Regions from separate parts of the Homo sapiens genome. Here regions 2 and 3 are each linked to region 1. The links come from fine-mapping of genetic effects on gene expression. A gene starts in region 1. Each other region holds a variant in brackets. All regions are shown on one strand. Distances are from middle to middle.

Region 1 (10,299 bases):
AGGCATACAAATTATTCAACACATAGACATGAGGGCCTTCAGAATGAAGACCCAAAAAATATAGGGGAAAGTATCCATTTGTATGCTTAGGTTCAACGAAGTAAGGACAGCCCTGTAGAAATATGACTGGATATAATCTATGCTAATAGGCTTAGTTAGAACCGAGCAAGACCCGTCTGTCTAGGTTTTTCTTGGCCTCTCTGTGCTGCATTCCTTCATTTTGGTTGTAGGACAGGACCATCTCTGGAATGGGCATCTTATGACCTACAGTCAAACAAGATAGCTCAGATGATTTCTTTATGACCAGTTTTACACAGATAGAGTGGAAGGAGAGTTAGAGTAACACTTTTAGGTTTTAAGGCTGGCTGTGGCAAGAGGGGTGTCTGGTTTCTATGACCCACCTTGGGGAGGGATTCTTGTTTGTACAGCTAGCCTCAAAGGAAGATAGGACTGAGAGACAGGAAAGGAAGTCAGAGAAAAACTTTTGCTTCTGAGGTATTGTTTTGGGGTATTGTTTTCTGAGCCCCTAAATACATAATAGGTATCTTTGTCTTTGCCCTTTTTATTGTTCTTTTCCTCCTTTTTTCTCTTATGTGCCACTGTCACCATTCTCAGGTGGGCTTTCGAGAATGAATGTGCAAAATTCATGATTAGGGTCAACCACATCTCCATAGCTATGGGCCTTACAAGCATTAACTGTCTATCATTTGCATCTTCAGACTGATATTCAGAACAGTTTCAGGATTCTCACACTAGCCTAGAGAACAATTTTTTAAATAATTCCATCAACATATTGATATGGGAGAGGGGCAGGGAAGTGCTAAGTAGAGAAGGGCAGGGTCCCTGGCGAGGTTCCACCCTCGGCCTTTGCCCACAAACCCAGGTGAGGACAGGCACTCCTGTTTTCATGCCAAATGTTGCATTTCCAAGCCAGCCATGCCCCTCCTCCTGTGCCTATAAAAACCCTGATACCCTAGTGGGTATACACACACAAGTGGCTGGATGTCAAGAGGAACACACTGGCAGAAGAACACACCAACAGTTGCTGGCAGACCATCGATGGCAGAACAAAGCAGATACCAAAGGAAATTCAGCTGAGGGTGGTTGGAGGAGAGCCAGGCTGCTGAGCAGCCCTACTCCAGAGAAGACCACCTTCCCACTCCATCCCCGTTCTGGCTCCCTGTCCATCTGTTGATAACTACTATCACCACTCAATAAAACCTTGCACTCACTCTCCAAGCCCACATATGATCTGATTTTTCTGGGACACTTGGGCAAGAACCCTGGGATACAGAAAGCCCTCTGTCCTTGCGATAAGGTAGAGGGTCTAACTGAGCTCATTAAAGCAAGGTGCCTGCGGACGGCTAAGCTGAAAGAGCACATTGTAACATACACCCATTTGGGCTTCGGGAGCTGTAAACACTCAACCCTAGATGCTGCCATGGAGTCGGAGCCCACGCTCCCCATGACCTGCCCGTCTGCATGCTTCCCTTAGGGGTTTGAGCTGCGGGGCACCAAAGAAGTGAGCCACACCCCCATCACGCACCCTGCAAGGGGGATAAGGGAAAACTCCCCTCGTTTCAATATGTTAAAGCTTATTCACCCCATGAGAGCCATTTGGTTGGTAGGCTATTAATTATTGCCTCAATTTCAGAGCCTGTTATTGGTCTATTCAGGGATTCAACTTCTTCCTGGTTTAGTCTTGGGAGGGTGCATGTGTCCAGGAATTTATCCATTTCTTCTAGATTTTCTAGTTTATTTGTGTAGAGGTGTTTATAGTATTTTCTGATGGTAGTTTGTATTTCTGTGGGATTGGTGGTGATATTCCCTTTATCATTTTTTATTGCTTCTATTTGATTCTTCTCTCTTTTCTTCTTTATTAGTCTTGCTAGCAGTCTATCAATTTTGTTGATCTTTTCAGAAAACCAGCTCCTGGATTCATTAATTTTTTGAAGAGTTTTTTGTGTCTCTATCTCCTTCAGTTCTGCTCTGATCTTAGTTATTTCTTGCCTTCTGCTAGCTTTTGAATGTGTTTGCTCTTGCTTCTCTAGTTCTTTTAATTGTGATGTTAGGGTGTCAATTTTAGATCTTTCCTGCTTTCTCTTGTGGGTATTTAGTGCTATAAATTTCCCTCTACACACTGCTTTAAATGTGTCCCAGAGATTCTGGTATGTTGTGTCTTTGTTCTCGTTGGTTTCAAAGAACATCTTTATTTCTGCCTTCATTTCTTTATGTACGCAGTAGTCATTCAGGAGCAGGTTGTTCAGTTTCCATGTAGTTGAGTGGTTTTGAGTCAGTTTCTTAATCCTGAGTAAAATGCTATTCTTAACATCAGTTCTGTTCCATTGGTCTATTCACCTTGTTACTAGGCTTATTACTAGGACTATGTAGTATGCTTCCTCACTGTTCTATTTGAACATTCTAGGAGAATGAAAACACCATAGAGGAAGGTGGTTTTTTCTGTTCTGTCCATTGATGCAATCCAAGCACCTAGAACACAGCCTGGCACAGAAGAAGCACTCAAACTGTGGTATTTCAATGAAAAGTGAGGAATATTTTTCATGTGGAATTTTTTAAAGGAATGTTGTGCCCTACACCTTTTCAGTAAGGAGATTTTCTGTGAAGTACTACGCGAGGCCTGCTGTGTGCATGGCGAGATCAGCAGAGGCAGAGACCAAGAGAGGCAGAAACCTGGCAGAGCTGCTGAGGATGGTGTAGAAAGAGACTCCCCCATGCTTAGTCATCCCATCATGCCCATTGTCATGTGTAGCCTCCAGTTATACAAAGCTAGAGATGCTCAGCCTCATCCCCATTTGAGATAATTGCATTCTTTTGCCCTATTCATCATCACTGAATGGTGAGTCCCAGCAATTCTGATATCAAGAGCACCAGGAAATAACCATTTGTTTGTATTTCACTTGGAAGGTAGGGTCTCACACCAGGTTTGGGGATTTACTGTTCAAGTCCAGATGACCAGTAAAGCAAGTTCCTGGAAGTAATAATATAGCAGTTAAGAGCACAGTCCCAGCCAGGCACAGTGGCTCACGCCTGTAATCCCAGCACTTTGGGAGGCTGAGGCGAGCAGATCACGAGGTCAGGAGTCGAGACCATCCTGGCTAACACAGTGAAACCCCGTCTCTACTAAAAATATAAAAAATTAAACAGGCGTTGTGGCGGGCGCCTGTAGTCCCGGCTACTTGGGAGGCTGAGGCAGGAGGATGGCGTGACCCCGGGAGGCGGAGCTTGCAGTGAGCAGAGATCCCGCCACTGCACCCCAGCCTGAGTAACAGAGCAAGACTCCGTCAAAAAAAAAAAAAAAAAAAACGATCACAGAGCACAGTCCCTGAATTAAGATTACCTGGATTCAAATCTAGACTTCATTACTTTCTAGGGTGTGTGACAGGGTAAGTTACTTAACCTCTCTGTAATTTAGGTTATCAGCCAAAAGACAGAAACCTTCTGTTATTTTAGCAGAGAATACTTGCTAGAAAGAGTCATTACCTGTGTATTAAAGAACTGCAAAGGCATAAAGAAAACACTGAAATAATACAGACATAGAAACTGCATGAATCAGCCACAGCCCAGTCACTACTAACTCCCTAAGCAATCCCTGGCCTTTAGTTTCCCCACCTGTAAAATGCTGAAGTTGGGGGGAAAAATCGTTTCACTTTCATTCCGGTGGCGTGATACGAGATTCTAAGAAACAGGGAGAAAATTCCGTGAGTGGAGCCAATAACCAAGTCAAACATCAGGGGGGTCTATGAACACTGCTCCAAGGAATCTCTCTCTGGATAACCAGACCTTGTGCCCTAGCCCCAGCCCGTCATCTCCACTGCTAGAGAAAAAAAATACAGTTAGTCTGTCCAAGGCTGTTAGAGTCCTCCAACATATAAGACGCATTTCCATTTTACTAGCTTCATGGTCTGCTTGGGGTGGGGATGGCGGGGAGATCGTATCCTTGAAGTAGGCACTAGGACTGTGAGTCACTTGCCTGTCTAGAGCACCAGGACTGTTTGCAAAGGGCTGAGGAGATTTCCATCAATGGAAAAGAGCATGAATTTAGAGTAAACATAGATTACACTTAGAGATCAGAGATCAATCTAGAGATAAAATACACTTTTCTCTAAAGGGGGTGGGAGAAGATGTTGGACAAGAAATACCAGATTTTCTTAATGGTTCATTTATGTCAGGCTCTATGGTGGGGACTTTTATGTTATTTGACTTAATCCTCACAACAATTCTGAAAAATCTTTTTTCAAATTTTATGAGAAAGTGAACTGGATATTTAACTGATTTTCTCACGAATTCCTTCTGAGGCTCAGAAGTGTGAAAGAAGCCCAAATGACCAAGGTTCTTTAACAATTTGGTCAAAACAGGTCATAGACCCAGAGGAAGGTCTGGATCCTGGAAGTTTTCTTAAGCAAAGACAGTGCTTGTTGTGGATATGAAGATGTTGACTAAGCTGGGCACAGTGGCTCACACCTGTAATCCCAGCTTTGGGAGGCCAAGGCAGGTGGATCACCTGAGATCAGGAGTTCGAGACCAGCCTGACCAACATGGTGAAATCCTGTCTCTAGTAAAAATACAAAAATTAGACAGGCATGGTGGTGGGCACCCATAGTCCCAGCTACTGGGGAGGCTGAGGCAGGAGAATCACTTGAACCTGGGAGGTGGAGGTTACAGTGAGCTGAGACTGCACCATTGCACTCCAGCCTGAGCAACAAGAGCAAAAAACTCCATCTCAAAAAAAAAAAAAGATGTTGACCAAATGGCAGACTCTTGCCATGAAGCAAGCCCAGACCTCAGTGCCAAGAGATGTGAATTAGATTCCTGCCTCTTCCACAGACTAGACATGTGACTGGGGGCAGATTCCTTCAGCAATATCACCTCATTTGGAGAAGAACTGGACTAAAATACCCTCCAAGTAGTTTATGAGTTATTTAAATCTCCCAGGCTTAGGTTTGCTCCTCTCTTAGGGGATAGCCTTGCCACCCTTCAGGAAATGGAGACTGTATATGGAGCATGTTGTGCCGCCAGCTGCTGCATGTCCCAGAGCCATCTTAAACCCTACCCTTCTGAACAATGGCTAGTCTACAAGAAGCCTTAAAAGGGATGTGAAAGTGGCAACAGTGTCCCCTCAACAACAAATACTTCCCCAAATATGAGCTTGTGTGGAGCCTGATGACTCTGCCTCTGAGGCCAATCCACTGGCATCTTTCCCAAGATGTGCCTGGACTTCCCTGAGCATGAGGCCAAAGATGGAGAATGGAAACACCCAAAAGAAGTAACAAGGAGACACGGAATTTTCCACAGGTTGCTTTCAGCTTACCAAGAGCCTGGAAAGTGAGAGAATAGATTCTCCAAAATTCAAAACTAACATTACTATTATCAATATTTATTGTCTACTTTTTGTAAACTCTTTGCATCTTTTTTCTTTAATTCTCCCAACACCCACAGAGTGGAATTATTATTATCCATCCACCATTTATTTAATAGACAAGAAAACTCAGGCTAAGCAAAACTAGATGACTTAAATAATTCTATGTAGGAGTAGGGAAAATGAATTTTAACTGGGACCGTACAAATCACTAGTCTGCACAAAGGTCTTTTTCTCATGTGTCACTTCTATCTTGTGTCATTTTGCCAGACCTCAGAATTTAGAAAGAGGAAGCAGAGGCACTTTTTATATATCAACTGTCTGTAACTACAGCAAAATTCACATCCTGTGTAATCATAAATACTGCTCTAAGAAAGGGACAGGAAGTCTCAGAGGCTGGAGAGCAGAGCACCAAGATCGTTCTGGCAGGAACAGCCAGTGGGAGGTTCCAGCTGAGCGCTCCCCAGAGGTGAGCTGATCCCCAGCCACAGCACACAGGACCAGGCTGCGAGAACAGGTAGACACCTTGGTTTAGATCATGACTTTTGGGGAAGATTGTGTGCTTTTGAAAAGACAGCCAGGGAATTGGATTATCATCCTGTCTCTGATTCTGACCACCTGTGTGAGTTGGAGCGTCAGCTCAGTCCCCTTTTTGGGTCTCAGTTTACTCACTTGTCAAATAAGAAAATTGGGTAAAACCATTCTTAGGTTTCCCTCATTGAGGTGATTTTCCTCAATGTTCTGCATTCTCCTGGTGTGTCACTCAGTCTTACAGAGTCTACTCTCAACAAATACTGTGCAATTAGACTGAATCTTGCATTAGAACCCCATGGTCCTACTCTAATTCTGTAATACAGAAAATTGCTGGGCAGAGCTGTTGACCTCCATGTCATGATTTATCTTCAAAGCACGGATTTTAGAGCTGTCTTGAAAGCTGTGGGTCCCTCCAGTCTATCTCCTCAAGGCGAATGTGGAAGGACAAAGCATCCTCTCAGACTGTGGTGTTTGGAGATGATAGCATCAGTCTGGAGACTTTTGTGAAACATAAAGAATCTTGGTTATATAGGATTCCTTCTAAAAGTAGCAACGTGTATCTAAATTCAAGTGTCATAGATTTAAATGTAATAATTCCACTTCCATACATCACTGTGAGATAATTAAATGCAGGAGGTATCACAAAAGTGCAAAGATGTTCATTATTGCATTGTTCATAGTGGCAAAAAGAAAAAATAGAAACCACCTAAATAGTCATGAACATGTGATTGATTAAATGAATCTAGAGACCTCCATTTATTTAAATATACCATTTGGCTTTTTGGTTGTAGTAAAATATGCTTAAAATAATTGTAGCCTTTTAACCATGTGTTTTTTTGTTGTTTTTTGTTTGTTTGTTTGTTTGTTTTTTAATTGAGAAAGAGTTTTGCTCAGTCACCCAGGCTAGAGTGCGTGATCTCGGCTTACTGCAACCACTGTCTTCCAGGTTCAAGCGATTCTCCCATCTCAGCCTCCTGAGTAGCTGGGATTACAGGCACTCACCATCATGCCTGGCTAATTTTTGTATTTTTTTAGTAGAGACGGGGTTTCACCATGTTGGCCACGCTGGTCTTGAATTCCTGACCTCAGGTGATCTGCCCGCCTCGGCCTCCCAAAGTGCTAGGATTACAGGCATGAGCCGCTGCACCCAGCCTTAACCATTTTTAGGTGTACAGTTCAGTGGCATTAAGCACATTCACACCATTGTGCAACCATCACCACCACCCAACTCCAGAACTTTCTTGTCTTCCCAAACTGGAACTCCGTGCCCATTAAACAATAGCTTTCCATTCCCCTCTCCCGCCAGCCCCTGGCAACCACCATTCTACTTTCAGTGAATTTGACTCTTCTAGGTGCCTCACATAAGTAGAATCATACAATATTTGTCCTTTTGTGACTGGATTATTTCACTTGCCATATTGTCTTCAAGGTTCATCCATGTTGTGCCATGTATCAGAATCTATCATTTGCTTTTAAATTTAGGCTTTTTATTATTTCTATTCATCGGTCAAAGATGTCTACAGAATAATGTTGAGTACAAAAAGAACAGTTATAAAATGGCATGGATAGAATGACTATTTCCGTAGAATTGTGAATGTCTGTGAACATATATAAAGAGGAGAGAGATAAAGTGACAGATGGGAAGAGAGAATGTAAAGAATATGTGCATAGGAAACAAGAGTGATCGGGTGGCAGTTGAAAGTTAAGGAGCTAATTTGTTTTCTTCTTCAAACTGTATTCCCTTGTAATGGTGGTACTTTATGCACTCTTTCAAACAGAACAAACAGTTAAGAAATAACAAAGGAAAATAAATGTTCATGGTATCAGATAGGCTATAGCCTGAAAGTATCAATTAAACTTTCGAGTCCTAGCTTCAGGCTGAGAATCAAGCATTTTCTGCAGTCCTTAGGTATGAGATTCGAAAAATAAAGAAAGGAACCCAGAACTCAGGAGGCTGGTGACGAAGACTAGTAGGAAGGAGTCTAGTTGGTATATTTGGGCTATTGAGCCACACAGAGCAAGGTAAAAGCCAAGTTTCTACAACATGAAAGCAAGTTGGGAAAAAGAAATCTTCAACCTATATTCCCTAAGATCAGCAATGTCCCTGGGAGAGGATATGGAACTGATGAGTGGCAGCCAATGCTTCAACAATAGGGGAGGAAGAATAGAGAGGATGAGAATCAGTTGTAGCTAGCCGGGCAAGAACAAACCTACAGGGATATAGAAGAGCTCTGGTGTTAGATGGCCTGTGCCCAAATCTTGCCTCCACTACCTGCTAGATAAGCAATCTTGCACAAGCTATTTCACCTCTCCAAGCCTCATTTTTCTTATCTTCAAAGTTCAGCACCCATCTCTGAGACTGCAGATTAAATGAGACTGTCACAAAGCTCTTAATAGAATGCCACATTCATAGTACGTGCCCAATCAATGTTAGCAATGATTATCATTTTATCATGAACTACTGTTTGATTCTGGAACCTAGAATTTCTCTAAGCCTGACACTTTTTCTCCTTCTCTGGCTTTAAAGATGTGCTGGAAGGCTCACCCTGACTCCACTGCAGGGATTCAGCTTCAACATTATTCCCCTCATAGGACATGTAACCTCACCCACACTTCTACCCAGATTTCAAAATTCCAAGAAATGAAAACTATCTCCTTAAACAAAGAGAACTTTAGGTTTAATAATTCTTCAGATAAAGTATCTCATGCCCGGAGAGCATGAGAAACTAGACTAAGGCACAGATCTAGGAGTAGAAATAAAATGGAGGTCCAAACATGGATCGACTATTATGGAACACCTGATAAAACTCAGAGAGTTACAACAAAAGACACTCACGTGTGTCATTCAAATCCTCACAAGAGTCCTTCAGGATAGTGTCATTATCCTTATTTTACAGATAAGGAAACTGGGGATGAATGAGGGAAAGTATCCTGCCTACGGCCAGCTCATCAATATCAGAACTGGGCTTCCAATGAATATTAGATAAAACTGATATGTTTTGGGAGTTTATCACATGCCTCCCCCTATGCTGAGTCCATTATATGTGTCATCTTATCCAACCTGTACCACAAACCTATGAAGTGGTGAAAATACCTTGCCCAGGGTGAGTTTAGCAGTAACTGGTGGATATGGGATCTGAACACACGACTGGACTCCAAGACATATGGTCAGATGTGCAACTAGATGCCTAGGCATTGGACTCCCATCCCAGTGCACTTTTCCATCTCCCTCACTAGGAAGAGATTCTAGGTGTCATTTCCAATTTTTACATGTTCTTCACTCCACCCAAGAGAGGCCAGAACCATTCCTAAAGCACCAACACATTGAGGCAAAATGTCAGGCAGCAGAGCTGTGGCACCTTTCAAGGATGACAAGCCTTTAACTAAACTCTGGCCTTCAGTAGGGAGAATGTTGAGCTGAAAACAAATCTGGGCAACATTTCAGGTGCTGAGCCTTGTTGCTGACACCACAGAGGCCCAGCAATGCTGCTGAGTTAGTGGTGGCAGACAACTTGCTCCTGGAATCTACAAGGGAACTGGAAATGTTAGGAAGGAAGAAAGGAAGGAAGAGGAAGAGGAGGAGAATTAACATGGCATAGAGAAAAAAATATCACAAGCGTCTGAGCCAGACAAGTCTCAATCCAGTCATGTAAACACAGGCTGTTAATATTTGCTACCATATATTGAACACATTCTAAGTGCCAGGCTAAGTACTTTATGTGACTATTTCATTCAATAAAAGTCACTTGAGCTTATTAGCCCCAGGTTTCTAATGTATAAAATTGATTTAATAACATGTAAGTTACAGGGTTGTTATAAGGATTAGAGCTGCAATGGTCTAATGCTTGGAATTCAGCAGGAGTTAAGTAAATGTTTACATTACTAATTACGAAGCCAATATAAGCAAGGAGGAAGATTCCGGATGGGACAGGCCATCTCGCTATAGGAAAGGAAAGTGGAACAGCATTCATCCTCAACATTTTTACGAAGACAAAATGAAGACTGGAGTAGAAGACTGATCAGTGCAGGTGTAGCATAAAAGTGTAATCCTGGAAGATGTGGTGTGAGAAGGTAGCACAAGTGAAGCAGAGATACAGGAGATAGGGAAGGGAAGCTGGAAGCAGAGGTCACTGGAGGGAGAGGGAGATGGACACATTCAGGGCTACAAAGCAAGTTCTATGTGATTTGCTCACCTCTCAATTGTGGGACCCCTCAAAATGTGTACAGTACTCTCCCAGTGACATGCTTCTTGACCACAATGGATGAACTGTGCCCAGCATGCCCACTTTCCAATGCTCCACTGATCCCCATGTTTTGTTTCTGAAGGACAACCAGCCTTGGAATAATGGCAAATACCTTCTTAAGTTCCTACAAAGTATGGTCCCTGG
Region 2 (10,299 bases), 52 kb after region 1:
CTAAGCAAGTACTCATTGAGATATAGCATTAGCAGGAACAAAAATGTATTATTTTAAAACATGGATCCAGAGATCTTCTCTGGAAAATAATAATCTATATTTATGCAACCTCTCACTTGTGGTTATCATGCCTAGAAAGGCATGCAGGCCCATCACATTTCTGAAAGGCTGTTACTGTTAGTGAACCACACAGACACAAAGAGTCCTGAGGAAAGTGCAGATCTCCTTTGCAGCCATAATATCCTCCATCAGTTCACAAGGTACTCTTTGGACATTTGGAAATTCTCATCTCTCACTCTGCTTCCCCCACTAACACATACACACATACACCTTTCTTTCCCTGTGGTCCCTGTGATTTTTTTTTTTTTTTTTACTTCTCTGACCTACCCTAGGATTCAAATGTGGAGTTTCTGGTCAGAGAGTTAAAGTTTTATGCATCACTGGAGAAAGCTTTAGTTGTCAAGGCAAAGCTCTGAAGCATCAAATTGAGTACATGGAATCTAAAGGTAAAGCAACTGGATCATAATTTTGACCCAGCACCATTACTAGTGGGATACTTTGGGAAAGTTTCTTAAAATTTCCGTGCCTAAGTTGAGTAGTACTCAGCACAGGGTTGTCAAGAAGATTGGATAATTAAAGAATGTATAGTGTTTAAAATATCTGTCACGGAGTAGATGCTCAATTTTGTTCCATAATAAAACATCTATAAAGCTAATTCTTTTACTAGTCGGTATTACTTCTTATGGCATAAACTTGATCTAATTTATGCCACCAAAGTATCTCTCTTTATTCTGAATTATACAAATTATCTCCCTGCTATTGAGTGAACTGCATCCCACTCTAAATTCATTTGTTGAAGTTCTAGCTCACAGTGTGATATCTGGAGACGGGCTTTTGAAGCTGTTGGGTTTAGATGAGGATATGAGAGTGAATCCCTCATGACGGGATTAGTGTCCTTATATGAAAAGACACCAGGCCTCTGTCTCCTGCTCTTTTTCTGTGTGTGTGTCCTTGTGTGTGTGCTCACATGCCTGTGTACACACAAAGGAAAGATGATGTGAGGACAGAAATAATACAGTCATCTGCAAGCCAAGAAGAGAGCTCTCATAAGGAACCAAGTTAGCTGACACTTTGATCTTGGAATTCGCAGCCTCCAAAAGTATGAGAAATAAATTTGTGCTGTTTAAATGAAGCAGTCATGGTAATTTACCATAGCACCCTAAGCAGAATAATATACACCTTTTCTTCTTGCAAATTGGGAAAGGGAGTGAAGGCATAAAAATCCCATCTGACCACAATGAAACAAAGAAACTTTTTGTTCTTTAAACATAAAATTCCTAGGTAGTCACAAAGGGAATATCTAATACCTATGTGTAAGTCCGAAATTAGTAATTAGAGTGTTTATGTCGGAAGATACAGTAGGAAATCCCTGTTGCTGCCTTTGTAGGTTCTGTAGAATGGTCTTCTAATCTTATTTTTAAAGTATGCTATATATGCAAGACTGTGCTACTACTACCTTAGAGGAGTGAAGAATCAGAATGAAAACCAGCAGGACAGTGCAGTGAGAAAAACAGTCATCACTTACAGAAGCCCAGACATGCAGAGAAAACTAAGAATTCAATAGATGCAGAAAATCAGAGCTTGAGACCACTCCACACGATAGAAGCCCCAGTGGTTCCCCTTCCCTCGTATTCGCTTGCTCCTTCCAAGAAATGTCTGGAGACATTAAGAGTGACACTGGGTTTTACCATTATTCATGGAATAAGATTTAAAGACACTATTATTATTTATAAACTTTAAAAACAAAAGAAAACTAGAGGATTTAGGGACTCCTAAGCGGGTGACATCTGGCCACAACAGTTGACTGCTCTAATTCTGCTCCCAGAGTTGTTCTCTCCAAAGTATGGATATGGATCTTTTTAAAGGAGGGCTTTAACAACAGAGAAAAATAAGAGAAACTTAAAAACAAAGAAAATTGACTTTCAGCTGCAGTAAGAGAAGAACGATAGAAAGAATACAGTGTTTTTCTTGGAACTTTCCAGCAAGGGAATCAGACGAGAGGCTGTGAGGAAAGGCCTAATCCCATTGACTATGGTTCAGAGAACTTGGATTCCTCAGATCATCATAACTTCTCTGGAATACTTAGCAATAAGAAGCTTGAAATTAAGGCTGAATTTCAGAACATTAATGAATACAAACATATTATATATTATTCCATAAACCACATTAAGACTAGAGTAATTTGCATTAAAAGAGTAGGTTTTGGCAGATTGGAAAATAAGAAGAAATATGAGGATATGGAAAATTTTTGAAGTAGTGAACAGATACATGTCATCAATGTATAAAGGGGCCTAGGGCATTTATTAGCAGGAGGCCATGGAGTTCCACAGCCACCCTGAAATGGAGAAATTGTAAAATAACGTCTGTACTGGGGCCGGGCACGGTGGCTCATGCCTGTAATCCCAGCACTTTGGGAGGCTGAGGCAGGCAGATCACAAGGTCAGGAGATCGAGACCAATCTGGCTAACACGGTGAAACCCTGTCTCTACTAAAAATACAAAAAAATTAGCCAGGCATGGTGGCGGGCACCTGTAATCCCAGCTACTCAGGAGGCTGAGGCAGGGGAATGGCGCAAACCCAGGAGGCAGAACTTTCAGTGAGCCGAGATCGCACCACTGCACTCCAGCCTGGGCAACAGAGCAAGACTCCATCTCAAAAAATAAAATAAAATAATGTCTGCACTGATTCAGTGTGACATTTCCAGTATTATAGCTAAGCTCATAGAAACACATTTAACCTATAAAGAATCAACAAAAAATGAACTTTGGAAAGAGTGCAAACATAAAGCAAGACAAAGTATCTGCTCACCATGCTAAAAATGGCAATAATAAGAGAAATAATACTTATTACTCTTATTTTTATTACTACTACAATTTACTTAGCATCTACTACACTCCAGGTACTTTAAAATTTACTCACAATAACTGTATAACAATTTTTATTCTCATAAAGGAAATGTAATATTTTAATAAATATGTAAATTAATAGATAACTTAGCCTAGACCCCATAAATAGTAAATAAAAGGGCTTGGGGTTCATTCTAGGTTTCTCTTCTCCAAAGAGTAAGTCTTCCACTGCATCACCAGATTGCATGAATTAAAGAATAATAAAAAACAAAGAACAATAAAAAATTAAAGTTATATTTCTGCCATTTGTCAGATAGCTATTATAACACTGTGCTAGTCATCATGCTTAGAGGGAGAAAAAACAAAAACTGGGGAAGGTATAGAGCAAAGTTAAAACCTGAGTAATTAGGGTGAAATGGTGTTTTATAAAAGTATGTTGCAACATAGTGTGCTTAACTTAGGGAATGCTAACACAACATCAGATGATGTTCATGAAGGATAATCACCATTATGATTCAACGTCCATAGAAAACTGAACAAGAGATGGATACGTTCAGAGAAAAGAAATTGTGAGGGAGGGGTGGCCTTTTAAAATATTCTAACTGGCAACTGGTAAGTGGCTAGAGGCTGTCACATCATGAGGTTCAATTAAGGAAGACCTGATCTCAATAGGAAACACCAGAAAATGACAAGGTACAGTTAAAAACAGACACAAATTGTTCCCTTCCCTTTCTTTCTTGTCCTTTCAAGATGAAAGTACAGATCCTCCCATGAAGACATTAGGGGGCCTATTTTCTTACCCCTCGAATCTGGGTTGTCTATGAAATTTGATTGGCCAATATGACATTAACACACATGACTCAGCAGAGGTTTGAAAAGTATTTGTGAATTGGAAGAGAACCAAGAGTCTGCCAACTGCCAGAGACATGACTGAGGCCATCCTAATTCATGTAATTGGACACTCCACCAGGTGACCACAGTTGCATGAGACAGCCTGGTAGAGAAGTGCTGAGCAGCCTTAGATGAGACAGACCACACACAGGACCCACAGATGTGTAAACAAAAGCCGATGGTGGTTGCTGGAACTAACTACATTTTGAGGGATTTGTTACACAGCTAAAGCTACTTAAATCAGGTGGCAAAACCACAAAGTGACAGGAAAAATGGATGTTATCTATACTTCAAGAAGTGGTTAATTTGTTCCGTGGCCTGAGAGATTTTGCGTTCTACCTGTGTCTGAAGATATGGAACTGGAATAAATGTGTATCTAGTTGCCATTTGGTAACTAAAATGTCCTTTTTTTTGAGACAGAGTCTTGCTCTGTTGCCCAGGCTGGAGTGCAGTGGTGCAATTTCAGCTCAAGGAAACCTCCGGCTCCTGGGTTCAAGTGATTCTCATGCCTCAGCCTCCCGAGTAGCTGGGACTACAGGCACGTGCCACCACACCCGGCTAATTTTTTATATTTTTAGTAGAGATGGGGTTTCACCATGTTGGCCAGGCTGGTCTCTAACTCCTGACCTCAGGTGATCCGCCCGCCTCAGCCTCCCAAAGTGCTGGGATTACAGGCGCGAGCCACCATGCGCGGTCCCTAAAATGTCTTTATATGTAGATCATCTAGTCCAATTTGGTCAATGTATATATGAGGAATCAGAAACCAGGAGAGGGGGATGTGACTTGCCAAAAGTCACAGTAAACTCCTAACTAAACCAGGACTACTTGTCAGGTTCTCTGATCCCCAGTCCCAGGCATTTTACTTATAGCCATCTTGGGATCTTGAGCAGTCCTGAGATTCTATGACTCTGTGACTCTATGGTTCTATAATTCCAAGACAAAGCAAACAATTCCAGTGCTCCAGGCAGCCTCAGCACAAGAAAAGAACATGGTCTAGACTGAAGTACCAACTAAATCATCTCCTTTCAAATTATCACCGACACCATCATGGATTCAAGCACCGCACACAGTCCGGTGTTTCTGGTATTTCCTCCAGAAATCACTGCTTCAGAATATGAGTCCACAGAACTTTCAGCCACGACCTTTTCAACTCAAAGCCCCTTGCAAAAATTATTTGCTAGAAAAATGAAAATCTTAGGGGTAAGTAAGACTTGCCCCTATGTATATTTTACTGAGGCAGGGGAAAGGCTAGGGAAATTATCTGTTGGCACATGTTTGAAGGTAGGAGCCTATTCCAATTCTTCTTTAAGACAATGTGAATATAGAGTGTTGGTGGGCCATTTGAGAGAGGATGTTTGAGAAGAACGAATCATGTGGGTCTGGACTTGACAAAAAATGCTATCATTTAGGACTCACCTACTTAAAAAGTGATAGTTGCTATGGCAGTAAATGAGATTACTCAGACTGAGAAGGTGGACTGAGAAGAAGAGAGCAGAGCACATAGACTCACACGTTTTTGTATATTGTATACCTTCCATTTTTGTATATTGTCCTCATTAGTCTTTCCCAGCACTTGTCAAACCACTGCTTGGTGTCACAGTGCATCACATGAGTGGCTCAGAGAGGGAGAGAAAAAAAAAAAAAACCCGAAGAGATGGAGAGTC[C/T]TCTGGGCCTGAGAGTGTGACAATACCTCAAGAGGCTCAGAGAATTGGCCATCTCCAGGCAGGGCTCCTCACAGTCCAATTCTGCTTGAGGCCAGCCTGGTATACTCATTTAGAATTCAGTGTTTCTCAGACATTCACATTTATGGGCTAAAGAACTGAAGAACTTATGAAGACACAGGTTTCCCAGCCTCACCTGGAGACCGTTCAGTAAGTATGGGATAGGGCCTGATAGTTCGCATTTCTAGCTCCCAAGTGATCCTGATGTTGCCAATCCATGGACCACATTTTCAGGAGCACTGATTTAGATCATTTTACCTATCACCAAATACCAGATAGAGGAATTAAGAAAGTACCCAGGAGCATCATAAAGGGACTTCTATTATTCTTCCCCTAATTACCAAAGAGAGTAATTGCCAAATCCTTTTGACCAAAAGAAGATATTCTAAACAGAAGGGAAACTATCACTTTGCTTTTCCTCACCATGACTTTTTCCTCTATTTGCAGACTATCCAGATCCTGTTTGGAATTATGACCTTTTCTTTTGGAGTTATCTTCCTTTTCACCTTGTTAAAACCATATCCAAGGTTTCCCTTTATATTTCTTTCAGGATATCCATTCTGGGGCTCTGTTTTGGTGAGTATAGTCAATCAAGTTCAATTTGAAGCCATGCCAACCAGGATGTTAGGGAATTCTTCACAATGAAATAAGCTAGATCCAGTTGTATGACATGCTTTCAAAAGTGCAAAAAACTAACCTTGTTGAAATTATTTCCCCATTAGTTCATCACAGTCACTGATATTCCATCATTAGGTCTTGAAGTTCCTTTGGGAATACTTCTTTTGAGGCTTGCAGTTGTTTATTTGGCTATTCATTCATTTGAAATTAGTTACTATTTATTATAAGCCAGATACACAGAGAAAGGCAATGGGCCTCTCCCCCAAAGACCTCTCAGTCTAGCAAGAAAACATGTAAACAGGTCACTTCAAGTCAGTGTGATAAATGTTATCACAGAGGTGCAGGAAATGCTTATGTAAGCAGAGATGAAGGAGCAATTTATTCTTTACAGAAGTGAAGTGGGAAGGGTTTCTCAGATATACCTTTTGAGCTGCGGAGAGGTATTTATTAAACCCAGTGTAGTCACAATCAATAAACATTAACTTAGGACCTAATTTAGTGCCAGAGAATGGGCAGAGCAATGGCTTCAGGGAAAAGAAAGCAGTGCCTGAGCTCAAGGTCTCAGTTGAGTGAGGAGTCAGACAATTAACACAGGGTGTGATGAGGGAGAATAAACACAGGGGCTGCCTCCATAGGAAAGGCATCAACAAAACAGAGGGGACAACGCCCAGAGACATTTCCAGCTTGACCAAGTTTTAAAGGGTGAATGGTTAATCAGGTGAGGACACACACACAGAAGATGGGAGTTGGGATACCCAAGTGTAAGGATTAGGGATGTCTTGTTGCATGCCAAGGGAGAAATATGAGCACAGGCTGAAGGTATGGGAGAGCATTTTCTATTATGTGAACTATAAGAGTTCAGCACAGGGAGTGAGGATGGAGAGATGAGGCTGGAAAATACCCATGAAGGGGCTGGAAATTTAAACATGGAAGTGCTGTAATCAGATTTGAAATTTCCACTAGACAACAATGCTACCACGTGTGACCCACTTCCAAGAAAAATCTTGGAGATTTTAAGAACTACCAGCACATTCACTGCAACCCCACCTTATGTTCCCATCCAAGAGAACACACTGGATTGCAGTAAGATGGAATCCAATCTTAATGATTATAAACTGACTTGAAATCCCTTTGTCATGAGATCAAAGCTGAGTCCACAATAGCTATAAAAAGAACATGGATGAGTAAACCAAAGCCCTGTACGGTTAAAAAAAATGTTCATGTTCAAATAAATAGTTAGGGCTAAAGGAGATTTCCAGACCAGTGTTTTGTCCACTATTCCATTTGTGGAAAGTCATATAAAGCAACTCACCCTTCTCACTGCCCTGAGGAGTGTGTGAACTTAGAAGGCGGGCCTGTAAAAGAAATGCATAGAGGTCTATTCTGTAAGAACTCAACATCAGCTAAACATGGTCATCATTAACATATTTATTCCTCTTAACAGTTCATTAATTCTGGAGCCTTCCTAATTGCAGTGAAAAGAAAAACCACAGAAACTCTGGTGAGTTATATTCTTACTTTATTAAAAATATATTTTGTAGCCAGTCATGGTGGCTCATACCTGTAATCCCAGCACTTTGGGAGGCCAAGACGGGTGGATCATGAGGTCAGGAGTTCAAGACCAGCCTGGCCAACATGGTGAAACCCCATCTCTACTAAAAATACAAAATTAGCCAGGTGTGGTGGCACACACCTGTAGTCCCAGCTACTCAGGAGGCTGAGGCAGGAGAATTGCTTGTACCTGGGAGGTGGAGGTTGCAAGGAGCCGAGATCGTGCCTGGGCAACGGAAAAGACTCCATCTCAAAAAAAAAAAACAAAAAAAAGTAATGAGTTACATTTTCACTATTTCCACTTTATTAAAAATATATAACTTTCAAATAATTTATCCTGGCCTTGAAAAAAATTTGTAAAATCATTAGGTCACCATAATTCCACAAACTATCAAGTATTAATACCAATAAACAGCATTTGCTTCCTGTTTTCCTAGAATTATAACCCATTATGCTAGAGGAGAAAGTTTCTCTAGGTCATCTAGTTTAGCTCTTATTTTATGTATGAAGACACTGAGGCTTACAATCGTTAAATAGCTTGTCCAAATTCCCAGCCAATTAATGGTAGAATTATTTCAACATTCCAGTTACTTATTCATTCTTTTTTGTTTTCTGGGTATTTACGGCATACCAGGCACTTTGACAGGCACTACTTTGACTCATACGAAAGGCAAACTGTAGACAATCTAATTAAACCATAAACAGAATCTCAAAATAAAGAATACAGTGCTACTGAATGTAAAGTTATAGATAAATTATAAGTAGAATATTTTTACTTTACTCAAAGAATTGAAGACATAAGATATTACTATGCCAACAAAAGATTTTAGCAAAGGACTGAAAATCCTTAGTTTGTCATTTTAGGGAGAAATTAAAAATGGCAGAGAAGTGCAGCATTCAGTTAAACTTAGGAGTCTTAAAATAAAAATGTAAACAGACCATGACTTTCACCAGAAAATCAAAATGCAATTGTTACAGGCACACCCTTCCTCCCAACTGAATAAGAGTTAACTTAGGCATAGAATATGGGGAATGGAAAGGTTACTAAAAGTTCACAAGATCCCCTTATTGTGTAGATGAAGGCCTGAAGCCCAAAGATGTGAAGCAATTCGCACAGGATCACAGAGCTGCCTCGTGGCATTAAGATGCTGTGACTAAAATCCTGCTCTCCATTCTCCGCACTCATTGCTTTGTTTGTAGTACAGGCTGGACCTCAGTCACATTGTTATGTTCTTATTCTATTTCAGATAATATTGAGCCGAATAATGAATTTTCTTAGTGCCCTGGGAGCAATAGCTGGAATCATTCTCCTCACATTTGGTTTCATCCTAGATCAAAACTACATTTGTGGTTATTCTCACCAAAATAGTCAGTGTAAGGCTGTTACTGTCCTGTTCTTGGTAAGTATGTTGCATTTATAGAGTGATGAGTAAAGGGCTTAATAGAAAATATTTATTAGCACTCAATCAGCACCATTCAGATCATGTTGTGGACACATGTATTTTCTTTTACTGACAAACATTTATGAAATCCATAATATTTGATAGACATTACACCAGGCATTGTGGAAGAGAAAAATAAACACATTATAACTCCCACCTTTAGGAATTCACAGGAGCACAAGAGATAAAACATACACAAATCAGTATGATACAAATATAAATCTAAAAAAAAAAGGTACAGCAGTATGGCTGTAGTTTATAGCCCTATATGTACATTAGAATCACAGTGGTGTGTTTTTACAGTTCTTGATTTGGTTTTAACAGGCTGAACTTCCGATAAAGCATGATAAGATTGAAAAGGGGCATTTATTTTAGCTGCCTTCAAAATACCACTAAGATTAGTGTAAAAGAATGTAAAAGGTTTGATCCACATGGAGAGAAAAAGAGAGTTACCAAACACACACAAAAATTGCTGAGGAAATTGAAAACCCACCATCTAAGGCAAAGCAGGGGGAAGTCATATTAGAAGATATTTCTTACAGCAGAGCCTAAGAAATACTTAATATTTGAATGCACCAGGTCCACAGAAAGCAGGACTAAAGAGCAGAAAATAGGGAGACTGATTTTGGTAATGGTTAAGTATGGCTATGTGGATTAACTCTTCTCTGAAAACAGAAGTCTTTTTATTAAAAAACAAAACAACCTTAAAGACATTAAAAAGCTGAAAGGTCAGCTGGAACTACTAGATCAATTTTTAGATGAAAGCCTGCAACCTGAAATTTACAAGTGGAACTCTGAAGAGCATGAAAGCTACTTATGCCTTCAGACCCATTTGCCAGTGATGCTTATTTGGAATCCAATCCCTGGCCCATGTGGACTGAAAGAGAAAGAAGTCAAGGTTTCACATCCACTCAAAGTATAAAGACTTAAGAGAGATTTTCTCCGTATTAAACTAGGTCTTTGATAGGCTACTACGCTCTTCAGGTAAGGGCAAAAAGATATACAACGTACCCTGCCCCAAAATAGCAAAGTCGCTGAACAAAGTTTAAAAAGGAAAAGTATTTGAGAAGTGTGGCCACAAGCCAAACAAACCCCTTGACAACCTCCTTGCACGCCCCAATCCCCACTGACCTTTGCTAGGCATAAACTGGATAAGGCAAGAATGTTTTA
Region 3 (10,299 bases), 170 kb before region 1:
AGAAGAATTTTTCTTAGTACAGAACAAAATGAAAAGTCTCCCATGTCTACTTCTTTCCACACAGACAAGGCAACCATCCGATTTCTCAATCTTTTCCCCACCTTTCCCCCCTTTCTATTCCACAAAACCGCCATTGTCCTCATGGCCCGTTCTCAATGAGCTATTGGGTACACTTCCCAGATGGGGTGGTGGCCGGGCAGAGGGGCTCCTCACTTCCCAGTAGGGGCGGCTGGGCAGAGGCACCCCTCACCTCCCGGACGGGGCGGCTGGCCGGGCGGGGGGCTGACCCCTCCACCTCCCTCCCGGACGGGGCGGCTGGCCGGGTGGGGGGCTGAACCCCCCACCTCCCTCCCGGACGGGGCGGCTGGCCGGGCAGAGGGCTGACCCCCCCACCTCCCTCCCAGACGTGGTGGCTGGCCGGGTGGGGGGCTGAACCCCCCACCTCCCTCCCGGACGGGGCGGCTGGCCGGGCGGGGTCTGACCCCCCCACCTCCCTCCCGGACGGAGCGGCTGGCCGGGTAGAGGGGCTCCTCACTTCCCAGTAGGGGCGGCTGGGCAGAGGCGCCCCTCACCTCCCGGACGGGGCGGCTGGCCGGGCGGGGGGCTGACCCCCCCCACCTCCCTCCCGGATGGGGCAGCTGGCCTGGCGGGGGCTGACCCCCACCTCCCTCCCGGACGGGGTGGCTGCCTGGCGGAGACGCTCCTCACTTCCCAGACGGGGTGGCTGCCGGGCGGAGGGGCTCCTCACTTCTCAGACGGGGCGGTTGCCAGGCGGAGGGTCTCCTCCCTTCTCAGATGGGGCGGCTGGGCAGAGACGCTCCTCACCTCCCAGACGGGGTCGCGGCCGGGCAGAGGTGCTCCTCACATCCCAGACAGGGCGGTGGGGCAAAGGCGCTCCCCACATCTCAGAAGATGGGCGGCCGGGCGGAGACACTCCTCACCTCCCAGATGGGATGGTGGCCGGGAAGAGGCGCTCCCCACTTCCTAGATGGGATGGCAGCCGGGCAGAGACGCTCCTCACTTTCCAGACTGGGCAGCCAGGCAGAGGGGCTCCTCACGTCCCAGACGATAGGCGGCCAGGCAGAGACGCTCCTCACTTCCCAGACGGGGTGGCGGCCGGGCAGAGGCTGCACTCTCGGCACTTTGGGAGGCCAAGGCAGGCGGCTGGGAGGTGGAGGTTGTAGGGAGCCGAGATCACGCCACTGCACTCCAGCCTGGGCACCATTGAGCACTCGATAAATACTTTTTTAAAAAATAAATCATTTTTAGTCCCAAGTATACTGACTCTACCTGAATAGGTTGGACTACTTATAGTTAGAAGTTATCAGTAATATCACCTTATATACTCAAGACCTTATGACTTGTTTTTATCCTTATTATTCACAGAGCAAATTGATGGTTAACCACTGTCACTAATTGCCAGAGCCCTTGCTCTCAGACATGTACATACCAGCCAATACAAAGGCAATTCTTGGCCTAACTTCAACCCAGCAGAGCAGCCACTTGCAATCACTAAGCAGACAGAGAATCAAATTGCCTCTACGTCTTATTAATACAAGTTGAGATGATCTAAAGGAAAGGAATTGGTGTAGGTGAGGACCTATCTCTTGAAGATTTGAAGAAGATTTATGGTGTGTGCTGTTGGCAAATTGTTGCTATATTTCCACAACAAACCTATCCTTTGGTGCTATGAATGTGTTTACAATGAAGATTAATGACAGAGTACACATTTTTAAATAACTTTCTGATGTTTTTGTATATAGAATGTATGGGAGCTTGCCATTCAATCTGGTCAGTAGCATTCTAAAATTATCTGAATGCATGCACCTGTGTTACACTACATTGGCTTAGATTATAGTCTTTTTCTTGTTCCCTACTATGTTTCTTCTGTCCTAAAAATCCTCTCAGATAGCCAACTGAGAGCTATTACCCAAACCGAAAACAGTCCTAGTTTCCAAATATACATCAAAGCCACTAAGTGACCCACACTGAGTTTTTCCTAAACACAAAATTGATTTATATCATATGCATGCCCAGCTGATTACTTGTAGGAGGATCATCCTTTCCACCTGACTCCAGGTGCCTGTTCTGCCATGTCATTCTCAATATGACATCTGTAGAAGTTAAATACTCCTCTCTTAGAGAAAAAGATCCACTACTTTATCCCAATTGCGTATTACTATTGACAGTGGAAAACTGTACTACAGTTGGAATCTCATTTTACCTAACTCACAATGACTGGAAAATAGGTTTGAGGGAAGATGACTCCATTTTTAGAGAATCTTAGATTATTCTGGTATTAAATTTGAAACAGTAATATTATAAATTCCCACTTCTAAAACTTCACTGAAGTTAATGAAAATTACCGATTTTCAGGGTAGTGCAGCTTCTTTGTGTCCCATATGGACATTACTCTTATACTTAGTACAGTTATTTAAAAATCAGAATTCTGTGGACACACTTATCTGTTTCTTTTCCTGAATATTTAAAAGTATAATAACTGCTTATGTGCTCAAATTAAGACTTATGTTAATCTTTAGCTTATTTTATTATTTTATTTTTACTTTGTTATTTGCTTTTATATTGTTTAATAATTCTTTATATGTCACCTATCAGTATCACTCACCATTCTTTTCATATCGCCTACCAGTGTCAATCTTCATTCTGTGATTACAAGTTTTAATAATACCTGTAGTCTTTGTAAGAGCCTATAAGGTAGGTACTATTGTAATTTTTATAGATGAGGAAACTGAAGAAACACAATGATAAGCTACCCACAGCTAGTAAGTTGTGGGGAATTTAATCATGTATGTAAAGAATAATTATCTTGGCCAGGTGCAGTGGCTCAAACCTGTACTCCCAGCACTTTGGGAGGCCAAAGTGGGTGGATCGCCTGAGCTCATGAGTTCAACACCATCCTGAGCAACATGGCGAAACCTTGTCTCTACAAAAAATACAAAAATAAGCCAGGTGTGGTGGTGTATGCCTGTAAGCCCAGCTACTTGGGAGGCTGAGGTGCGAGGATGGCTTAAGCCAAGGAGGTGGAGGTTGCATTGAGCCAAGATCATACCCCTGCAATCCAGCCTGGGTGACAGAGCCAGACCCTGTCTCAAAAATTAGATAAATAAATAAAAAGAATAACTATTTTTCTTGTAAATGTAGCAAAAGAAGGCAAAGTTTTCATGGACGTTTTCCTACTGCTTTACATCCTAATCACTTATAGATAGAACCTAGAATAACCAAATAAAGAATAAATTTAAAATTGCATGATATGAAATAAATGAGGCAGCCTTCTCTACAAGTTGAAATCATAATATTTTGCATGAATTGCCTAAAATATTTGCATTAGCTTTTTACAACTAAAAATGTACTAATCTTAGGTTGCTTATGTAAGTGTTAACCTTAAAAAGTTTATGTATGCGCTAATTTAAACCAACAGAAGGCATTCTCAGGCCACTTAAAATAATCTCAAGGCAATATATCAGGATATAAGTTAGGATATTTTACAAAATCCAAGACAGAACAAAGAATCAGGAGATGTAAGGACTTCTAGGATTTAGTATGAGTTCTGGCTTTTATTATGAGTTAGAGAGGAAGCCATTGAAGGATTTTGCCCAGTTATAGCAGTTAATCATCTTCCCTTGCCTTTATATATTTAAAACGTCAGGGATTGGCCCAACTTGAGGTAAACTTTGACTTGGAGATGCAAAGGATTTTGC[T/C]AGGGTCTGATCCTTCACTTGGCGCTTCTCAGTTCTGCTCGTCTGTGAGCAAATTACATCAACTCAACTAGAGTGAAGTTCTGTGGTAGCTTTGTGACCTAGGAAAAATTAATTGTGTGAATGACTGACACATTTCCAATCAAATTACTCTCATCATTTTCACTTCACTGTCTAAGAAATGATCTCCCTCTCTTTCCTCTTTCCTGTTGGGCTTGAAGCTGTGAAGAGGTAAGTTTGCTGCAATCAGCAGCCATCATGCTACTATATGAACCCTGTGACAGACAGATGCTCATCCATGAAATCAAGCATTCATTTCATTTCCATTTATTGCTATTTCTGCTTATTTGACTTTCTTTTAAACATACTTCCTTTACAGACACACACGTATGCCAGTAATAAAGTAGGCTACATGTATTCTCACTGATGTCCCATAAGAGACATAGAACATCTATGCAATAGTATTAAGGTTCTATATACTACATAATAGTAAGCAACAGTATTAAGGTTCTATTTGGTGGTTCTTGCTAGATTACCTTTCAATCCTCAACCAAGAAGATAGAATGTCATAATAGACTTTTTCCAGATACTGTCCATCTCCGGAGCTGGAGAAAGTAGACAGGTTAGCATTGAAAGAAGGAGGGCCTCACATTCCCATGAAAAGCGTGCATGGAGAAAGGTGGATACAATAGATACGTGAGTGTAGGGCAGAATGAGAAATCCTATATACTGAGTTGGAAAATATGAATGTCCATGCAAATTCAATACTTTTTATCTTATCATAATGAAAATATCGCTTCCTCAAAAAGAACTTTCCTGGTTACTCTCTAATGACTCATATTTCACAACCACTACCAACAACCACTCTCCAGCACATTAATTCTTACAGTTAGCTTCTAACAGCATATAAAAATGTTTTGATTGTTTTATGTTAATCTGTGTCCTGTCCCATAAAAGTTTAACCTACAAGAGGAAGGATATTATCTCTCTTATTCACCGCTATTTTCTTATATGCTTAAAACAATGTCTGCCCCATTGTAGATACTTTACAAATATATGCTGAATAAAATGATGAACTGACAAATATAAATAATATGTATATATGTACATATGTATATGTATTAATTAAAGCTTTTGAGGCTCCATATGTACCAGAGTACTAATTGCTCTATCTTTATTATACCAAGAAATTATCATAGGTCTATGGGCCAGACAATATTATTACTATTTTGCTGAAGAGAAATATGAAGCACAGATAAATTTTGTGGCATGTTCATAGCTACATAGGTAGTAAACAACAAAGATGGGATAGCAAGATGAAAACCCAGGGTTGTCTGATTAGAAAGTCCACATTATTTACCACCATACAGTACTGTCGACATCAACATTTAGTCTCTTTCCATCATATTGCATCTGAATAGAAAGGAGGTAGCACATGAAAGTATTGCTTCTAATTTTATTTTTGCTCTGCAATAAAAAAGCAAATGTAATTAACAAACATTAACAAATACCATATGTTGCACATTTCCATATGTGACACAGGATACACATTTGATTAAGATATAATTCTGCCCAGCAGAAGGTGGGGGAAGGGAGAGGAAGAAGAAAAAATAGAAAATATAAGTTGAATCTGATCCTTCATATGATTTTTACTCCATGTATACCTTTACTGAAATGATAGCTTGTGCACATGCAAGGACTGACTATACTATTCCAAGGTACTTTCTATGGGTGAAGGAAAGCAGAAGGAAAAGGATGGGGGAGAAGGGCATGAATCTCCACTTCATGAAGGAAAAAGCACTTTGGTCCCCAAATATGGCAGAAAAAAAGTCAAGTAAGTGAGAGGAATGTTATACAGGGGAGCAGAAGTATGTGTTTTGCATGGAGACCTCGTTTTAGCAATACCTTTTTGCCCTTCTGCTTCCAAATCTTATTTGCCAGTTTAATGCCTTTATATAAAGTCCTAATGATGAATGAAAACCTTTCAAGTGCTGCTGCCTCATTAAATGCATTATTTATTAATTTAACTTCTAGTACTCTCGATAAAGGGCCAATGAAATTAGTTGTTGAGTTCCAGGGGAAAAAATGAGAACAAAATTTTGAATATATACACACACACACATATATATATATATGTATATATATACGTATATATATATACACACACACACACACAGAGGTCATAATTGGATTCCATATAATAATGATATCAATATGTCTATCAGTATTGGAGTTGGATTCTGGTACTTTCTCATGTGGGGTTCTTGTGTTACAGTCAGCATAGATTTCTGGAGCATTCTTCTGTTAATCTTTTGGTGGCATCAAACTGTCTTAAGTGGTGTGGGAGATGCTATTTCTGCCATGTGAGAATTTGATGGTGTAATTAGCACAAACAATCAGAATGCCATAGGTGAGTCACCCAAATCACCTCAGAGTGCCCCTTTCCTGCCCACATAAAGTCATCATTATCAGAGTTTACTCTTTTCTTCTCTGATTCATTCTCAATATCAGTCATGTGGGGATTCTCAGTCATTCTTTAGATCAGGCTAGATTTAGGACACAACATTCAGTGATAGCTCTTGACCTGAGCTGCTGATGACCACTGCCCTGGTCTCGCAAGAGGATCAATCTTACATGTGGATGACAGTGCACAATATGATGGGTAAACCAAGGTATCATGAAAAATATGGGGCTCTTCTTCCAAACCAGGTTGTTCATGCTGATGACATCAACATACCCAAATCATGATTTGCTGGTTACAAATAAAGCATTGCAAAAACCACACTGGCCTGGAATAGCAGGGATCATCACAAAACTAAGAAAAGTTCTGGTTATTCTTCCACAAACTCAGTGCAACATTCGATTGGTAGGGCACGGTGGGGGACCAGGAAGAGATAGAGATTTAGCCAAGATATGCCCCAAAGCCACTGCTTTTCTGGACTCAAACCAGGGGATTAGGGAAACAACATTCCCCAGCTTCTATGCAAAGAGCCAAAGGGAACACAGACTTAAATATCATGACATGAAAGTTACTTCACTTGATGAAATTACAAAATCATTGGTAATTGCTGAGAATCTCTCACCTCTAGGGTTTTACAATGCAAAACCCCACCACTAGAGTTAATGCGCTATAGTCAATCTCTCTTCTATGAGGGAGGGTTGTCGGGGAGTGGGATATGGTATTGCCTGGGAATCCCTAAAGAAGACAGAGAGGCACAAAATGATGGAGAAGGGCACCAGAGAAACAATCTCCTCAAACTACAATTACTTTATTCTTTGGCTGACGGTTTTGTCTGCCTTTCAGACTTTGGGTAATGAAGCTAATGAGTAGCTGTTGGGGTTTTACTATCCATTTCCTCATTCTGGAACCCTCAATTCTAGGAGGATATCCCACCCCATTATTCTTAGAGCCTCTTTCTTGATTTCTTCTCTCCTTCCATTCCTCACTTTCCTCTCTCTGTGTAACTTTCTTTTGGCTTAACTGCCAGGAGCATCTGCTGCAGGTCTCAGGGTAAGAGAGTGGGCAGGTGGGCACAGACTGATAGAGAAGTCTGAGATCATGACATTCCTTCCGTATTCCAGGAAAAGTTGTTGTAATAGGATAATAGAATAAAACCAAGTACTTTTGGGGACCTCTTCATTGTGAAATATTTTCTTATCTGGATTCAGAGGTTATGCCCTTTGAGAAAGGAAGGGGAAAAAGAGCTTTTATTTAGCTCTTGTGCTAGGCAGAGTTCTAAGGTGACACTCACTGACCCCTTGTGATTCCCTTCTCTCAAGTGTGGATGAAACCTGTGTATAAGATGGGATACAAGTCCCGTATGTAGGACTGATTTGTTGACTTTCAGTTTATAAAAAAACTCATTATTCTGGATGGACCTCACCTCTTCATGTGAATGCTTTATGAGAGGATTAAAGCACTAGAGACTCTGGCTCTCCTGCTGGTCTCAAAGAAAAAGTACATTGTCATGAGTCCTCAACTTAAAGGAAATTAATTCCGCCACATTCACATGAAAGAGAATCAGAAGCTTTAGACAAGGCCACAGCCCCGGCCAACTCCCTGATGACAGAGTCATAAGATCCTGAACCAAGGACCCACATCCACTGGGCCCAGACTCTTGATCCATGGAAACTGAAATATAATGAATGTGTACTGTGTTAAGACTATAAGTTTGTTTAACTGATTATACAGCAATACAAAAGTAATACAGATACCTTCAAATGAAGGCCAATACTGACCTCACTGGGGCTACAACAAAGCACTTTACATCCAAAGGCAGAGAGGGCCACAGCAATGCAGAATTCCAGCACACTTAAGAGGAGCACCATGCCATCCGTACCCTAGGAGAAAACTCATAACAAGGGAATGTGAGAAATGGAGATGACAAGTGAAAACATTTCCCAGCAACCACAGTGTCATAAGAGAAAAAGCACTGGCTGGGAGTCAGGAAACCTGCCTCCCAATGGCAGCCATACCCTTGACCAATTCTTGATCTGCTGAAGTAGCTTCTCACTTTTTTCACTAATAAAATAATCACAGACATTTATTCCCTAGTTCAGCACCTCCCAGTGCTATTGTGGGCATGGAAGATGAAAGTGCTTTAAAATGTTAGGAAGGTAGTATAAAGATAATTGTCATCATATCCTATTGAGTACTAGAAACTCATATCATTGAAAAAATACTATGATTCCATATCTTCGTGATTGTAAGCAGAGTAATGGTCCCCCAGGGAGGTCTGCATCCTAGTCCCCTAATCCTCAGCTTCTGGGGATTTGAATGCAGACCTCCCTGGGGGGACCATTGTTCTTTTTGCACAACAAAAAGGATTAAATTTGCAGCTGAAATCAAGGTTGCTTATTAGCTGGAATGAGAGAATTTTCCTGGATTATTCAGGTGGGTTCAAAGTAATGACAGAATCCTTATAAGTGGAAGCAAGAGGCAGAATAGAGTTCAAGAGAGTTTTGAAGATGCTGCATTGCTTGATTTGAAGGTAGAGGATGGGATGACAAACCAAGAAAGGTAGGCAGCCTACAGAAGCCAGAAAAGGCAGTAAAACTTATTGTTGCCTAAGCCTTCAGAAAGGAGTACGGCCTTGCCCACACTGATTTTAGCCCAGTGAGACCCACTTTGAACTTCTGACCTCCAGAAACAGAAGATAACCAAACTGTATTGTCTTGAGACACTAAATGATTTTATATGGTTCTGCCTAATGATTTGTAGTAATTTGTTACAGTAACAATAAGAAGCTAATACAACAATGAACATCACGTAGGTCAGTCTTTAATCCATCTCCCCAGAGCACTGGCTTTAGGGCTAGTCTTCAGCCAAGAAACATAGTCAAAATTTGGAGAACAATTGGGCAGTACACTTATTTCTATTAATTTTACCCCGGACTGATGCAGGGATTATCTGGTTTAAATATTCTCTCTTTTTCTCTCCATGGTTAGGGATAGTCCCTCTGTTGCGGAAGAGCCAATAGACCAAGAGCTCAGGATATGAGTGAGGCAGACTTAAGGAGACCTTGAGAATATTTGCATTCATTGCTTTTTTATTTTCTTGTGCCTTCAACAGCTGTAGCGGCCTCTGTGTTTCAAACATTGTTGTAGGCACAGAATATAGAACAGCAAACAAAACAGACAATTCCCCTGTCTTCAAGGATTTTACCATCTAGAAGTGTAGACTAGAAGATGGCAAGCTTTCCGTAAAGGCCAGATAATGTACATTTTAGGTTTTGCAGACCGTAAGGTCTCTGGCACACACATTCAAACCTGTTATTATAACACAAAAGCAGCAATACACAATATGTAAATAAATGGGTTCGTTACATTTCAATAAAACTTTATTTACAAAAACAAATACAGGGCTGGACTTCCAAAAACATAGCATGTATATAGACCTGTGGACTGATTGTGCAGGTGCCCAGGCAAGAATAGACCCATTGCTTCAAATCCCAGGAAGCCCTTATGGAGGTCCCCTGCTATAAAAACAGGCATAAAAATGTTTACACAATTAACAGGAATTCATCATGGACTCTGGGAAAGGTGACTGAAATGAATGCAGGACCAGCTATGTAATTTATAGACTCTCTTATTAAAATTACATATATATCTTAGCTTGAGCTATACGAAACTGCTGTCTTTCTAGGTTAAGTATAGTTGATCATTGGCAATTTCATATGGTTCTGCCTAATGATTCCGGGTGGTAGACTCTAACTACTTTTTTCTAGAGCTCAACTTTTTCTGGCCTCTTTAATAATTATATGCTTTCCAGCATTTCTATCTTTTTCTTCCAGGAGAACCAAAGTTCCTTTGTGGTAGGGAACTGTTCTCTTTCTTATGTCTACCAGGGTGCCAACCCTGTGATGGGGCATACACTATGGGCTCATAGACCTGTGGACTGAATGTAAAGGTGCCCAGGCAAGAAGAGACTCATTGCTTCAAATTCCAGAAAGCTCTTATGGAAGTCCTCTGCTATTAGAACAGGCATAAAAATGTTCACACAGTTAATAGGAATTCATCATGACCTCTGGGAAAGGTGATTGAGATGAATGCAGAACCAGCTACGTAATTTACAGAGTGTCTT

Evidence for each region.
Region 2: its variant is fine-mapped to the expression of MS4A7 in whole blood (TOPMed, PIP above 0.99).
Region 3: its variant is fine-mapped to the expression of MS4A7 in lung (TOPMed, PIP above 0.99).

What each region holds. Positions count from the first base shown.
Region 1 is chr11:60,372,771-60,383,069 of GRCh38, forward strand. MS4A7 (membrane spanning 4-domains A7) reads left to right here and starts at 5,762. Exons shown (of 7, transcript NM_021201.5): 1 at 5,762-5,894. RefSeq lists enhancers at 4,794-5,033, 5,714-5,763.
Region 2 is chr11:60,424,831-60,435,129 of GRCh38, forward strand. It overlaps MS4A5 (membrane spanning 4-domains A5), which reads left to right and starts at 4,742. Exons shown (of 5, transcript NM_023945.3): 1 at 4,742-4,997; 2 at 5,966-6,094; 3 at 7,581-7,637; 4 at 8,935-9,087. The coding sequence starts at 4,845. The variant C/T (reference allele first, on the strand shown) is at 5,462.
Region 3 is chr11:60,200,638-60,210,936 of GRCh38, forward strand. MS4A4E (membrane spanning 4-domains A4E) reads right to left here. Exons shown (of 9, transcript NM_001393391.1): 6 at 7,956-8,057; 7 at 5,077-5,183; 8 at 4,253-4,321; 9 at 1-1,242. The coding sequence ends at 906. MIR6503 (microRNA 6503) reads right to left here and starts at 8,519; the gene lies at 8,434-8,519. RefSeq lists an enhancer at 477-1,332. The variant T/C (reference allele first, on the strand shown) is at 3,720.